Linked DNA regions of Homo sapiens: region 2 is linked to region 1. The links come from fine-mapping of genetic effects on gene expression. Tissue or cell type: neutrophils. Region 1 holds a variant in brackets; the other region holds the start of a gene. All regions are shown on one strand. Distances are between the middles of the regions.

Region 1 (8,107 bases):
ACTTAAAAAAATTATGGGGCCTATCGGCTGGGTGTGGTGGCTCATGCCTGTAATTGCAGCACTTTGGGAGGCTGAGGTGGGCGGATCACCTGAGGTCGGGAGTTCAAGACCAGCCTGACCAACATGGAGAAACTCCATCTCTACTAAAAATACAAAATTAGCCAGGTGTGGTGAGCATGCCTGTAATCCCAGCTACTTGGGAGGCTGAGGCAGGAGAATCACTTGAACCCGGGAGGCGGAGGTTGCAGTGAGCCAAGATCAAGCCATTGCACTCCAGCCTGGGCGACAAGAGCAAAACTCCGTCTCAAAAAAAAAATTATGGGGCCGGGCGCGGTGGCTCAGTCCTATAATCCTAGCACTTTGGGAGGTAGAGGTGGGCAGGTTACTGGAGCCCAGGAGTTCAGGACCAGCCTGGGCAACATTGTGAAACCCTGTCTCTACAAAAAAGCTACTCTGGAGGCTGAGGCAGGAGGACTGCTTGAGCCCGAGGTTGAGGCTGCAGTGAGCCGAGATTGTGCCACCGCACTCCAGCCTGGGTGACAGAACAAGACTCCGTCTCAATTAAAAAAAAAAAAAAGGAAATTTCTGAAGTGATAGTAATGTTCTATGTCTCGATAGCAATTTGGGATACAAAGGTATAGGCATTTATTATTATTAAAACTTGGAAATTTACACACAAGCACATAAGATTTATACATTTCATTGTATACATATTTTACTTCAAAAGAAAAAAGTCAACAAATATTTAACCTAGTCAATGATATACATGCTGAGTTATTTAGGCGGAAGTCTACTGATGTCTACAATTTACTTTTAAATGCGCCCAAAAAAAAAAAAAACAGGGATTGACGAATGCTTAGAGAAAGGTACAGACATGTGATAAGCCAACTATAGTGAAATGTTAGTGGTAGTCTACATGGTAGGTATATGCTGTTCACTATAAAATTTTTTCAACTTTGCTCTGTTTGCAAATTTTCACAATAATATATTGGGGAAATGTCTAGAAATGTGATGCTACCCTAGGTCAGCAGGAACTGTGAAAGATTAGACCTGTATTCTGGTTCCCAGATGCTAGAGCCTTTATTTTTTTTGGGGGGGTGGAGGTGGAGTCTCACTCTGTCGCCCAGCCTGGAGTGCAATGGTGTGATCTCGGCTCACTACAACCTCCACCTCCCGGGTTCAAGTGATTCCCCTGCCTCAGCTTCCCAAGTAGCTGGATTACAGGCACCTTCCAGCATGCCCAGCTAAGTTTTTGTATTTTTAGTAGAGACGGGGTTTCACCAGGTTTGTCAGGCCGGTCTCAAACTTGATCCACCCGCCTCGGCCTCCCAAAGTGCTGGGATTACAGGCGTGGGCCACCACGTCCAGCCTGCTAGAGTCTTTTATACTTGATATAATTTCTTGAATTCTGATTTCTTGAGGTTTTGTTTACTTAAATCTAGTTATCTCATCTCCCTTCTACTTTCACTTTCTGGTTTATCTAGTAATTTGTTCATTCATTTTCAAATATTTACCTTTCCCTACTAGGAACCAGGCCCTGTGTAGGTGCTGGGGATACAGTTTTGCTTCTGCTCCCATGGAGCTTCCATCGTGGCTTATTCCCAGTAACCAGCACCTCCAACTCCCTTAATTCTATCAGGAATGCTGTTTCCTACATCTTTGAGGCTACGACAGAGAGGGCCAGTTTATCCATTGAATAGTATAGGCCCCACACCAAGGGTCTGGGAGCTTTTTACAGTTCTATGAAAAATGTTTTATGCATGAAAAAAAGAATCTCCAATTTACAAAAGAAAATCGCAAAATCCTATACATTGCCAAGGCTGTCGAAATGAACTCCTAGTCTTTTTGATTCCCTCTTTTTTTACAGCTCTGAATACCATAGGACTGCCAGCATTTCGGGCCCCAGTAGCAAATCTAGCCCTAATATAGATGCTGTATGGGAATAAGACACTCCAATAGTCAGATGGATGCCTAAGCTATCATAGCCTAATGACATTGCAACTTCATTCTTTGAACTTCTTGTGCTGATCTGTTGTTCAGCAGTCCACCTTCTGATTCCCATGTAGGTCTGCGGAGAGGATGCAGTATTTCTTTGGGTATTTCTAGTCTCTGTAACAGTGCTTTGTCAGGTAAACCCATAAAATAGCTTGTGATTAAGAGCTGTCACACCACATGTCTAGAATTTGAGAAGGAAATCGGCCAATCCGGGTGCAGTAGCTCACGCCTGTAATCCCAGCACTTTCGGAGGCTGAGGCGGGTGGATCACTTGAGGTCAGGAGTTCGAGACCAGCCTGACTAACCTGGTGAAACCCCGTCTCTACTAAAAATAAAAAAAATTAGCTGGGTGTGGTGGTGGGCACCTGTAATCCTAGCTTGGGAGACTGAAGTAGGAGAATTGCTTGAACCTGGGAGGCAGAGGTTACGGTGAGCCGAGATCGCACCACTGCACACCACCTGGGTGACAGTGTGAGACTCCATCTCAAAAAAAAAAAAAAAGGCAATCATGTCAACATTATTATTATTTTTTTGGTCCCTTATGGCCATACATTTCTCAGTGTAAATTAAATTGCTAATTTAAGAGGGACAAGGAATAGTCTTGCACATCTTCTCATCCATACTTTTAGTTTTAAACTTAGTTCTAGTTGATTCAGGCCTTGTGAAGCCTTGTTTTATCTTATTCTCAGCATCTAGGTTCTAACCCCTACTGTTCTCCCATTATTGACTGTCCCTTGCCAGGCCTCTCTTAACAGCTGAACCCTGGGCTTCTGTTTCTCCATCTTTTTTTTTTTTCTTTTGAGACGGAGTCTGGCTCTTATTGCCCAGGCTGGAGTGCAATCGCGTGATCTCGGCTCACTGCAACCTCTGCCCCCTGGGTTCAAGCGATTCTCCTGCCTCAGCCTCCTGAGTACCTGGGATTACAGGCATGTGCCACCACACCTGGCTAATTTTGTACTTTCAGTAGAGATAGGATTTCTCCATGTTGGTCAGGCTGATCTCGAACTCCGGATCTCAGGTGATCTGTCCACCTTGGCCTCCCAAAGTGGGAGGCCACCGTACCCGGCCTGTTTCTCCATCTTTAACTGTGTTGTTTTAGGTCCTCTTGGGTAAAGCCCCGTCAACTCAATCCCCAGGTTTTTTGGGCCATAATGATGCCCCTGAGGTTTGTGCTCCCGGAATGCCCCAGAGCTGGAAACTAGGCAGCTTTTGCACATAAAATTACTTTATTATAAAGGTTTCCCACTAATACATACTAACAAGTATGAGATATTGATTTTAAAAACTTTGTTTTAACCAAAGAAAATAACAGAACAATGCCTTATAAGCCAATATTTAAATAAAACAGAGCATTATGAAATATTTTATTTTTATTTGTTGGTAATTATATCTGGATGGCTCATGAAATTACTGTAACATCCTTGATTTTATTGTTCCCTCAGGAATTTCCTCTCTATTTTAAATAAAATGTGTTTTATGCACTGAGTACATTTAGTATCTCCACTCTGTTAGACAATTACAACACTGTAGATACACAGAGCTATGCAATGTGCCTATTTTAACTATAGATTAGCTTCCTAGGAAGAACAGTGTTGGTATCCTTTGCCATTTAGAGTCAAAAGGAGTCTGATGGCAGTTCTTTACAGTGACTGTTGAGATGACTGAATCTTCCTGAGCCAAGTCTTCACATCTCTATTTTGTTGTTTTAATTTGAATAACTATGAAAAGATTGATTTTTTTTTTTTTTTTTTTTTAGGACAGGGTCTCACTCTGTCACCCAGGCTGGTGTGCAGTGGTGCGATCATGGCTCACCGCAGCCTCCATCTCCCTGGCTCAGGTGATCCTACCATCTTAGCCTCCCAAGTAGCTGGGACTACAGGCTCCCACCACCACCCCCGGCTAATTTTTGTATTTTTTGTTAATCCTCCCACCTTGGCCTCCCAAGGTGTTAGGATTACAGGTGTGAGCCACTGTGCCCAGCCAAAAAAGACTGAAATCTTTTATTTCTGATGGAGACCTCAAAGAGCTCACTGCATAGGACTGACCCCAGGTTGCCTTTATATTTCCTGCATTTTTCTCCTGTTGCTCTTCAGAGAAGCTGTATGATATAAATGAATGAATGAATGTGTGTGTGTGTACACACACATATATCTCCATTCAAAAGCTATAGCACATGCATGTTTGTGTGTATGTGTATATATGTGCATGTATATAAGTATATATGCATACACACATATACACACACACAAAGGTACAGAAAATATATATCTTGTGACTAAAATTCCCTGAACTACCAGTAACTCCAGAAATTCTATTCTGGAAAACAATGGCTAACATCTAATTCATTATCTTAGAATTATCACAAAAGGAATATGAAAATGTGGTTTCTAGTGCAATGCAGTTAAGATAGGTATTCTTGTAGGCCATGGTTCCAAGAAATTTGTTTGACAACTGTACTGAGTAGTATATTTCTCCACTTCCTTTATTTTTTTCCCTTACCTTTTTTGAAAAAAAAAAAATGAAGAAAAATGTGTTCCTCTTTCAAGTTCTTTTTCTCTCCTGGCTTATACAGTATGTTACCAGCAGAACTTTCTCTAAAATGAAAGGAAGTCATTGCTAAGAAGAGACAAAAAGTTAACAGGATTAAGGGAGTAAAAAGGCACATGGAATTTCTGGGTGTGTCCAGAATCTGAGAAGATTTGAAAAGAGGAGCAGAAAGAATTTTTGTATTTTAGAAGTTGAGGGGCCCTCCTGGCCTAGTTTGAAAAACACAATCAGATACAATTTGAAAAAAGTCCAACAAAATCTAGTGGGAAGATAAGCTAGAATCTTGTTACAAAAAGTGTCACGGGCCTTGGTTGTATATTTTAAATGAACTTCTTAATTTCATATCAAAATGCGTAGATACCTCCTGACCCCCATTCTTGCCCTCCTCCATTTCCCTGTTAAATC[C/T]TGACCTTTCTCTGTAGACCTTCCCATTTCCACCCTGGAGGTCTGGCTGTCAGGACTACTCTCAGGTTGCCTGGGTCTCCACGGTGGCACCCATTAGCCGTGTTGCTTCTGGGCAGGGCATCTGTTTCTGTGCAAAGAGAAAATGCTAGGGTGAGTCACCAGTCCTTCTCTCCTAACAAAAAAGCATTGTACTGTACAGTTTGATTTCGGCTCTTGTGTGCAACTTGTGATTGCAAACTAATGGGGACATGAGGCACAGCTCCAGTGACACACCTCTCAGGTTGCATTATAATGATCTGATTGGGATGTACCCCATTAGACCGTGAGATCCTTTAAGCCTAGGATGCTTTTATTTTTGTGTTCCCAGCCCTAAGCACACTGTGCCTAGCTCAGGGTAAGCACTAAACAAATGTTTCTTGATGAGAATGCTACAGGAGGAAGGGAAGGGTTGTACTCTACACAAAGAGCGGAAAAGCTACCCTTTAAGAAAGAGACTCATCTTCGCATGGCCTGCAGAGGGCGCTCTTGCATCATAGCTATACCATGCATCCTTTGCCCATCACTGGTTTCCTTGAGCAGTACCTTTTTGGTAAAACCACAGGTGTGAGACTTTGGAAATTTAGACTTAAACCTGCCCAAACACATTAGAATATCATCAGTTGCACAGAACAAATCCACATTACAATTATTCCAAAGGGACAAGAACATTCCAGAATTTGCTTAAAGAATACTAAGCCATGACATCTCAGAAAGTCAAACCTAAAGAAGAAAAATTGCCTGGTTAGTCTTCCGGGAAATGTTAATAATTCTTAAATTTGGAAGGCTCCTTATACTCACTTGATGAGCCAGTTCATCTAATCCAACTACCTCATTTCTCAGATGAGGAAACTGAAGTTTATAAAATTCCTCAAGGTGATGTATCTACAGAAAAATTATACTCTCAATTCAGGCTTTAGATGTGTGTTGAAAACATGGCAAGGTGTCCATTTGGAAAAAATGCACCTAGAGCTTTCTCTCTCTCTCCCTCTCCTTATTTAAATAGAAAGATTTAAAAATAAAAATATGGCCAGGCATGGCATCTCATGCCTGTAATCCCAGCACTTTGGGAGGCCAAAGTGTCAGGAATGCTTGAACCCAGGAGTTCGAGACCAGCCTGGGCAACATAGCGAGACCCAGTTTCTACAAAAAATTAAAAATTAGCCAGGTATAGTGGCATGTGCCTATAGTCCCAGCTACTCAGGAGCCTGAGGCAGGAAGATAGCTTGAGCCTAGGAGGTCAAAGCTTCAGTGAGCTGTGATCACACCACTGGACTCCAGCCTGGGCAACAGAATGAGATCCTGTCAAAAAAAAAAAAAAAAGTACTGTAGTAACTGCTGAATAAAATACATAAGACTGGAAAGACACTATTTTAATGGTGAATCTGGACAGCACTCCAAGGGTACATTTTAACAGGTTGGAAGTAGGCTTTTAACATATTATGGGGGGGATCAACTGAGTAATAAATAACACAGAATTAAAAAGTGTTGGTTAGCCAAACTGACCATCAAATTGAGAGCCAAAAAGCCATTAAGTTATGATTCTGGACAAGGCTCTGATTGCCACAGTTCAGAAAAGTTATTTGACATCTTTTTCACATTGTTAAGCTTAAAAAACAAACCCAAACTCAAATCCCCAAACCCTCAAAGCATCAAGTGCTTGAAGCATTTCTAATATACCTTCCGCATCAACCCTCACCTCCTTCTTGTTTCAGAGAAACCATGATCCTCCTCCAGGCTGGTTCTTAATCAGCACCCCCTCCCTTCCCTGGGTGCCTCCCATTTGTAGGCAGCCATTATTGGGCTGTATTCTGGTTGTGTTGAGGCTGGCAGGAAAGAGGAACAAGGATAGCATGTTCATGTGGTGTGAGTGGTCTCAGCTTCTAGGCATGCTGGGGGAAAGGGCAGTCCTGTGGCCCTGTGAGAGGCCCACTCAGACCCTGGCCAGCTCTAAGGGCTAAAGCAGCTCTGAGGTGTAGCACTTCACTTCCATCGGTTTTAGAGGCCCTACCTGGGGAGAAAAACGGCAGAAAAGCAGCCCTCAAAGAAATGCTACCATGGGATATGGCCTCAAGAGAGGAGCCTCAGCCTGAGATGAGTTGGGGGGTGGCCTTGAAGAAAAGAGGCCCTGGCTTCAGGGGCGTGGGGGAAGACAGATAAGGTGTTGGAAGGAAGCCACTCAGGATTCTTTGGAAAGCGAGGACAGTGAAGTTGGAGATTAAGGACCCGTAAACAGGGCAAATTACAGGAATTCTCCCCAGCCAACGGGAAGGGAAGGGCAGGGCCTGAGCACTTTCCTGGCCTCTCAAATTTGAAGATGCCTGGGGGTCACTGGGGAATCTTGTTGAAATGCAGAATCTGATCCAATAAGTCTAGAATCCTGCCTCAGATTCTGGATTTCTACCAAGCTCCCTGGTGAGGCTGCAGGTTCTTAGGCCCCACTTTCAGAAGCAAGGGTGTCTTCTAGACTTCAGAATAGAGAAAGTTGAACAACAGAGACCATGTACCAGAGAGTCATCTATGGGCAAATTCGTTCGGAGGAAGTCCTTCTAGCTCCAGTTCAAATTCAAGGTTGTCTTTGCAGATTCCCAGGTAGTAAAAGGATTTTAGGAGTTCAATTATTGGGCAAGGAGGGGAAAGGATCCCAGATTTAAGGACCCCTCATCAATATCCATTGGGGCTGGGAAGAAGAGTGGCTGGTTTTCCATTAGGTAGGGGGCCCAGATCACTAATAATCAGGGCGATCTGGTGAGGCAGAAGATGCCAGCAAGAAATGCCCTGGAGGGCCTGAAGCAGCTGCTGAATTCCCCATGAGCAGCTTTTCACATGCTACCTGAAGGCAGCCACTGGGAGGTTTTGAAAGAAGATACTAAGTGACTCCGCACTAGCACTTGCCACACTAGATAACCTGGTGAGAGAAGCTGCTAATTGTAATAGAGGCAGAATGTTATCTGTACTGTTTAAAACAAGTTTTCCAGGGGGAAATGAGGACAGGCCAATGCAGCCAGAAAGCACTGGGTGTTGGCTTTGCAGAAAGCTGTTAGGAACAGGGTTGCCAGGTGTCCTGTTTTGAACTGGACAGCATGGTATTTTAGCTTCTAGTGTACGAAAATGCAGTAAATGC
Region 2 (8,107 bases), 39 kb before region 1:
CATTGCAAATATGTAAACAAGGTTTTAACATTCTTACATGCACTTTATTCTCGTAGAAAATTTTTTAGATGAAACGACATCTATAGATGAGAGTGAGAAAGAGAGACACTGTCTCCTGATGTGATCCTAGTACCAATTTGATTTAGGAAAATGTCTATCAGAGAATATACATAATTCTAACATGTAAGAATACACAGAATTACATAATTCTAATATGTAAGAAATAGCCCATACACCAATGCATAACTCCCCATACTTGTGGCCACTACCACCACTTTGCTGGCAATAACTGTACCAGCCAAGCAGATCTGAATATTCGAACTGTATGGGACTCTTCCAGAAGGGGTTAAATAAAATTAGGTCATAGTAACAAAAGGTTGAATTAACAGTTAAACAAAATTATTTGGTACAAATACATAAAAGAAATGCAAAATTTTCAGATTCTAACACAATTCTAAACTGGTTAAGAGATGCTCTCCCTTAAACAAGGCAAAACTGAGATCCTATTGTATGATTACTAAAAATTCATTAACATCTTTTTTTTTCTAATTAAAAAAGTTAACCCCCAAATTCTGGGAAAGTACCTTTATAAATAATTTGCATCTGGCTACTCCATATACCTCCAGTAATTTCAACTGGAGAGCATCCTCCTTGATGGCAAAGACCATGCAGTGCTTGGCATTGAGCAGCTGCTCATCAAATAACTGATAAAGGTTGAATTAATATGCTGTGCTAAGCACTTTGTAGTGGACATGCAGTATCTGTTCTCCCTCTCCCGACAGACTTCCCTCTGGAGATCAAAACAGTTCCAAGAAAGCTGACTCAATCTCTGCTTCAGGTGTACAACATTTGATCTAGGTTAAGGCAATCAGTGCCCTCCACATTTCTTGGCCACAGTAACTGAGTCAAGAACTGCTACATGACCTAATCAACTACAATCAGAATCTCAGGACTTTTGCAGAGCACAATGGGATATAACACTCTTGGCCAGGCGAGGTGGCTAACACCTGTAATCCCAGCTCTTTGGGAGGCTGAGGCAGGCAGATTACTTGAGGTCAGGAGTTCAAGACCAGCCTGGCCAACATGGTGAAACCCCCATCTCTACTAAAAATACAAAAATTAGCCAGGCATGGTGGTGGGCGCCTATAGTCCCAGCTACTCAGGAGGCTGAGACAGGAGAATTAATTGAACCCAGGAGGCGGAGGTTGCAGTGAGCTGAGATCAGGCCACTGCACTCCAGCCTGGGCGACAGAGCGAGATTCCCTCTCAAAAAAAAAAAAAAGAAAAAAAAAGAAAGAAAGAATATTCAGGGTGTTTATGAGTCATTAGGGAATCATTTTAAGCTTATCCCATTTCTCTTAAGTACACAGACGGTTTTAGAATCTGTACTTTTAATGATTGGTGCTGCTTAGACGGTCAAGGCAAATTTGAGTACAGCCAGAATGCCACATAAACATAGCCACAGAGGATGTTTTAAGAAACATAAATTTCCAAATGAGCGGTGTCCCTTTCAAAGTAGCTGCCTTGGAAGTCATTTGTTTCTAAAATGTCGATTCACAATTAAAAGCCAAAGATATGGCATCAATGATAATACTTACAAAAATTATGCCATAGAAAATTCCAAAAGAGGAATTCCAAAGTGGTTTTAAGTAATACAACATCACTAAAATAAGTGACAACCCTCGGAGAATCACTTGAAGTATACAGACAATTTTGTTAAAAAAAAAAAAGCAATCACATTTTTTAGGTTATTTAATATAATAATCTTTCACACCACCAAATCCATGTGTTTCTATTTTCAAGTCAAGATCAATTCATGCTTGAAACATGTTCTTCTAACTCAACAACCCTTTTCTTTCATTTTATTCAGGTTCTCAAATCAGGCTCCTCTGTGATTGAATAATTTAAGTTTATAGAAAGACAGGCTAAGAAAAAACTTCCTGGCCGGGCGTGGTGGCTCACCCCTATAATCCCAGCACTTTGGGAGGCTGAGAGGCAGGCAGATCACGAGGTCAGTTCGAGACCAGCCTGACCAACATGGTGAAACTCTGTCTCTACTAAAAATACAAAAATTAGCCGGGCTTGATGGTGGGCGCCTGTAATCCCAGCTACTCAAGAGGCTGAGGCAGAAGAATTGCTTGAACCCGGGAGGCGGAGGTTGCAGTGAGTGGAGATTGTGCCACAGCACTCCAGCCTGGGCAACAATAGTGAAACTCCGTCTCAAAAAAAAAAAAAAAAAAAAAAGAAAAGAAGAAGAAAAAACTTCCATGCAGTTAGAAAATTTGGAGATGACATTACTCTATTTCATCCAGTTAGTAGCTGACAGTTGCTGGACAGCTTTGGAGAAATAAAACACAGTGGAATGAGTATATCTGACCAGCTCTTCCTAGAGGAAACAGATGACAGAGAAAAGGAATGCTCCAAAGAGGAGACTGCAGTAATTCAAGAGTCTAACAGTAAAGATAGGAAGAAGTGCTGCAGTTGATCATGAGTTCCAGGAATTATGTATGGTTGTCCTTCACTATATTCTCAGCACTTATAACAATGCCTGCCACCTGATAATTGCTTAATAAATATCACTTCAGTAAATGAGTAACTGAAATGGAAATATTTTCTGAGGAAAACTATAGAATTTGAACTCCATCGTCTATAAATAATGATGGATAAAAAATAATTTAAAGATTACTTATGTATTAAGGTTCTGTACTACATTTGGGAGATCTGAGAATTAAAAGTAAATACACACATACAAGGTGATTATATAGTTATCACATTTAGTATGTGTTATACAAAAATACAGTGGGCAGAGTGTTTCCAGAATTATAAGGAAACTGGGCGAGAGAGTTTTATCATAAATATTAAGAAGTGCCTTTTTATTTCAATGCACTGTCCTTTAAACAATCAGAAACGTGTAAAAAATCAAAAGTGCAGAAGTACAGTTAGAATAAAATAATCCACAAAAAGACAGTACTCTAACTGAAATAATTATATTGGGAAATCTCTCCTTCTAGAACCACATTCCAGAAGCATGAAACTACCTGGGAAAAGTCTAAGAAATAATAAGGTGGTGAAAGAGGCTATGATGGGAGAGGAAGAATGTTAGATAAATTATATGGATTTGGAATTAAAAGGATAAAGCAAGATGCAAAGGAGCAAAGTGCTATTTTATTTTTCAACAGTTAGACCTGTTGGGAAGAGGCCAGTCAGATGAAATTACAGTACCTCTCACAATGACTAAGGAGTCGGGCAATGGGAGGTTTTAGTTGAAATGGCAAGTTCTGACCTGAGGTGCGACTTCAGACTTCTGCAGTCTGCCTTGTTTCGACTTTAGGAGGTGAGAGGAAAATTACTTCCAATAATATAGGATTCAACCTATAAATGATGGGGCTCAAGAGACAGGACCGACAGTCAGGGCAGGAGGAGGAGCAAGACCGGACCTAGAAGCATTCTGAAAATGTGTAGGTTTTCACTGGGGCGCGCCAGAAGGGCACTCTCCGCCCCCTCGCCCGAGGACGTGTGACATCTCCGGAGGAAGCCTCCGAGATTCCTGTGAAAATGGGAGGTCCACACGCCCATTCGCGATGACAGACACAGAGAGGGCTGCGCAGCCTTGAACACAGAACCGGGCCCAGGTGGAGTCCGCCGGCTTCTGGAGAGATCTGCGAGACGAAATGGTGTCGGCGCAGCGTCGCCGGCGCGGCGGGGCAGCGTGGGGACCCTCTGACCCTGAAGGTCCCCCTGCCCGCCGCGCCCGGCCCCCGTGAGCCGTTGGGTCTGGGGAAGGGAGGGCCCTTACCCATGTGCTGCGTGTCCAGCTGCACGGCCGGCATCTCCTTCAGAGGGATGTGGCCAGTCCCCCCGTCTCTGCAGCACCGCAGGCAGCACAACACCGAGGTGGCCATCGCGCAGGGACCACCGACTCCGCCGCCGTCCCTAGACCGAGGCGACACTGCCCCCCGCCGCTCAGCTCCGTCTCCTGCCCCCGCCCGAGGTCCGGACTTGTCTATGTGGAGCTCGGAGGCCGGTACAGCGACACCCTAGGCCGGGAGGGCGCAATGCAGGCTGAGCTTAGGCTGGCCTGCGAGGAAGACGCGGAGAATCAAGGGGCCGGGGAGAGACCGGACAGGGCGAGCGGCCGGGCTGGGCCGGGGAGACGGGTGGGGCTAGTGGCGCGCGGAGGCGTGGCAGGGGGCGTGGCGTTGCGGGCCTGCGGATGTGGGACGGCGTGCGCCTGCGCACCAGCTGGTTTTTTCTCCTTGGGCGGTTTCGCGCACGCCCCCAGGGCTGACAGGTGAGTGGGGCTGTCTGTCCCTCAGTACTTCCAGGGGTTTTCCTATGCAGAATTTTTAAAACGCAGCACCCCTTGGTCCCGGCCTCGACATTATTTCTAGGGATGGATTGACAGAAGCGAATCAGTTTGGGGGAAGGGGAGCTAATGGAAATGACTTCCGAGTTTTCCCTCCGCGGGCCCAGGTTGAGCAGGCTTTGCCACCACGGAGAGCCCCAGTCTCCCTGCCGTGGCTGGTTTCCCTCACATGCTAAATAGACTCACGTGGGCCCCAGGAGTAATGCCTGTTAGTGACTGCACTGTGGATGTTCACCGGGGCTCACGCGGGCCCTAATGCATTTTCGGTGCAGAGACGCGCCCTACCTGGCCCATCGGGCTGCGTGGTCCGGGGCGCGTGGGAGGCCGCCCTGGGAGCAGAACGCTGGGGCGGGGTCGGGGGCGATTCTTGACCTGCCTCTTCCAAGCTCCCCCTGTCTGGTGCACTGAGGGTTCCGAGGAATGTGACGGGAACCCAGGAGGCTGCGGGAAGTCTGCTGGGTCCCGAGGGAAGCCTTCGGCTCCTACCGTCCGCTACTTTCTGCTTCCACACGGGAGGCTGTCACCTGTCATCTCCTTCCCCACTTAGATCATCCTTCCGTGGTAGATTTTACATCTTCAGGCCGGGTGCAGTGGCTCACGCCTGTAATCCCAGCACTTTGGGAGGCTGAGGTGGGCGGATCACCTGAGGTCAGGAGTTCAAGACCAGGATGGCCAACATGGTGAAACCCCGTCTCTACTAAAAATACAAAAATTAGCTGGGTGCGGTGGTGCACGCCTGTAATCCCAGCCACTCAGGAGGTTGTGGCACGAGAATCGCTTAAACCCGGGAGGCGGAGGTTACAGTGAGCCTAGATCGCGCCACTGCCCTCCAGCCTGGGCAACAGAGACTCTGTCTCCAAAAAAAAAAAAAAAAAAAAAAAGATACCGCTTGGCATCTGGAAATGTCTGGGACGACCTCTAGAATTAACCTAGCTCAAACCTCTGTTCCCAGATCAGTTTCATCCTGAAGGCTTCCCTAGGGATGGATCATCAAGTCCTGGGAAACTGGACATAAAATGCCCACTACTTAAATAATGATTTCCCATACGTAACTTTTAGTGACCCGAGTTATAAATGTTTTTTAAGGAGGATTTCTATCTATGCAATGAGGGGAATTTTTCAGGTTCCTGGTTCTCTTTCTATAAATGGTGTTTTCATTACAATACTAAGGGAAAGTTTTGTACGTTGAAATTAAGTTACCATAGAATTTAATAACCAAGGTGATTATTAAACTGATTGAGGGTTGGTCTTTTCCCCCATTGCGTATGCAGTACTTTCTTGGTAATCATTTCACACAAGAAATTTTCTTTTATGACAAACCTTCATCGTTATGCTGGGAATTAAGTGCTTTGATTTTTTTTTTTTTTTTTTTTTTTAACCCCAGGGAAGTGCTGGGGGCGGGGCAGGGGGTGAGAATTTTAACAGAATATTGGAGAGACAAAATTTTTCTACCGTTCATATATATATATCTAGTTGAATTATTTCAAGATTTCAAGGTCAGTATTGTCCCCATTTTATAGGTGAAGAAATAGGCCTAGAGGTACTAAACTTTACAACTTCAGGTGAGCAGGAGATAAACAGGTAGGATTCAAGGCTTACCAGTCTGATTCCTGTTAGAAGAAAAACTTCAGCTGAACTAAATTTAAAGGAGTTAAACTGAGCAGTGAATGACTGGGCAGCCCCCAGAATCACAGCAGATTCAGAGAGACTCCAGGGATGCCTCGTGGTCAGAACAAATTTTTAGACAAAAAGAGGGAAGTGACGTACAGAAATCAGCAGTGAGATACAGAAACAGCTGCATTGGTTACAGGGGGGCGTTTGCCTTATTTGAACACAGTTTGAACAATCAGCAGTGTATGACTGGTTGAAGTATGGCCGCTGGGATTGGCCAAGACTCAGCTATTGTTACAGGTGCATACTCCTAAATTAGGTTTTCAAGCTTGTCTGCCTATTAACCTAGGTTACAGTTCGTACACAAGGACTCAAATACAGAAGTACAGAGTCCTTCTCAGGCCATATTTAGTTTGCTTTAACACTGCCTCTCAAATTCTTTCTCTTATAATTAATGCTATAATCCTCTTAAACATGCTCTCAGTTCAAAATGCAGATTTGCCCTTTTTTGTGTGTTTCATTTATCTCCACATTGGATATAAGCTGCCATAATGCATGTATAGACAAAATATAATAGAATTAGTTGTTATAAAGTAAAAATTTTGTTCAGAAATATTATTAAAAGAAGTACATGTATTATATATGTAATAAACATTTAGGCCATTCAAGTCAGTCACATCTTCAATGAAAAGCCAGACACTAAATGGCCGTGAATTGGACATTACTATAGAGAGGCAGAAGGGCCATAGTCTTTCCTAGCTGGAAAAGTAATTTGCTGGGGCGCTGCCCGGTGCACTTTGCCCCCATCCTAGCAACTCGAGTGTGCTCAGCAGAATGAAGTTAGCAAAACTGGTTAGCTCCTGAAACAGACTTCCCTGTCTTGGCAGATTAACACCATCCATGAGCTCACTTTTCCTTCTAATATCTGGGATTCTAATATCCATTCATTATTACTTTCAAAGGAATTATCCTCTCTTTTTGAAAAGCACAACGTTAAAGATGTTTTGACACTCTTTCACAGCTATCGCTTTAAATAACAATCACAAATAAAGCCAAAAATAGTTTCTCAAGGTCATTTATCTAAGTCATAAGCAATAAGAAAGAATGACTACTTCAAAAAAAGAGTCTGTCTGCTTCCAAGACATGCCAGGAACTCGAGAACTGAGAACAATAATGTAAAGCTTGTGTTTCAGAGTTGAGATTAGCATTATGCTTAAGATTTTCTTTAATGTTTTTTATGCCAGCTGGACGTCTTCTGTTAGTGAATTTCCCATTCTGTACTGGGTCATACGAAATGAGTTTTTAAAAACTCATTAATCAGTTATTAAACAAAACATTTTTCCTTAGACTAATCCAAACCACATTTGTGATCTTTTTAAAAATCAGAAACATTAACAAAAACTCATTTTTCTAAAAACTGACATATTTCTGGAGCCTTGACCAATTCATTATTATAATTTTGAGTAACTAATAGTGATTGACATTTATGTAGTGCTTATTATTGCCAGGCACTGTTCTAAGTGTTTTTTAAAAATAAACTAATTTAGTCTTTGTAACAACCATGTGAGGGAAAAACTATCCTCCACTTTACAGATGAGGAAGCTGAAGAAAAAATAAGAAATGTACTCAAAAGTTGCACAGTCAATGAAGGATGAAGCTAAATTCAAACAGACATTCTGGCTCTAGGGTCTGTGTTCTTAACCACTCTGCAAACTGCCTCCTAGGGTGTTACATTTAAAAATACATTCCTAGGTCTGGTGCGGTGGTTCACGCCTGTAATCCCAGCACTTTGGGAGGCCGAGGGATATGGACTGCCTGAGCTCAGGAGTTCGAAACCAGCCTGGGCAACATGGTGAAACCCTGTCTCTACTAAAAACAAACAAAAAAATTAGCCGGGCATGGCAGTGTGTGCCTGTAATCCCAGCTACTTGGGAGGCTGAGGCAGGAGAATCGCTTGAACCCAGAGGCGGAGGTTGCAGTGAACCAAGATCGTGCCATTGCACTCCAGCCTGGGTGACAGAGCAAGACTCTATCTCAAAAAAAAAATAAAAAAATAAAAAATGAATATACATTCCTAATTTGTATTTGTCTCCTTCTATCCCCTTTCCTCAGAGACTGACATTTAAATTT

Which allele goes with the higher level. Alleles are on the strand shown, and positions count from the first base shown. SD is a standard deviation of normalised expression in the study named.
With allele T in place of C in region 1, the expression in neutrophils of the gene that starts at base 4,007 in region 2 is lower (large effect, 1.1 SD a copy in BLUEPRINT).

The links. PIP is the estimated chance that this variant, and not a neighbour inherited with it, causes the effect.
Region 2: SPRYD7 starts here. The variant in region 1 is fine-mapped to the expression of SPRYD7 in neutrophils (BLUEPRINT, PIP 0.95).

Annotation. Positions count from the first base shown.
Region 1 is chr13:49,971,381-49,979,487 of GRCh38, forward strand. No RefSeq gene overlaps it. Among named protein-coding and RNA genes, the nearest start is that of MIR3613, 21 kb to the right of the region's middle. RefSeq lists silencers at 1,225-1,417, 5,313-5,607. The variant C/T (reference allele first, on the strand shown) is at 4,948.
Region 2 is chr13:49,932,334-49,940,440 of GRCh38, forward strand. SPRYD7 (SPRY domain containing 7) reads right to left here and starts at 4,007. Exons shown (of 5, transcript NM_020456.4): 1 at 3,797-4,007. The coding sequence starts at 3,902. RefSeq lists enhancers at 3,818-4,067, 4,938-4,987 and a silencer at 4,108-4,357.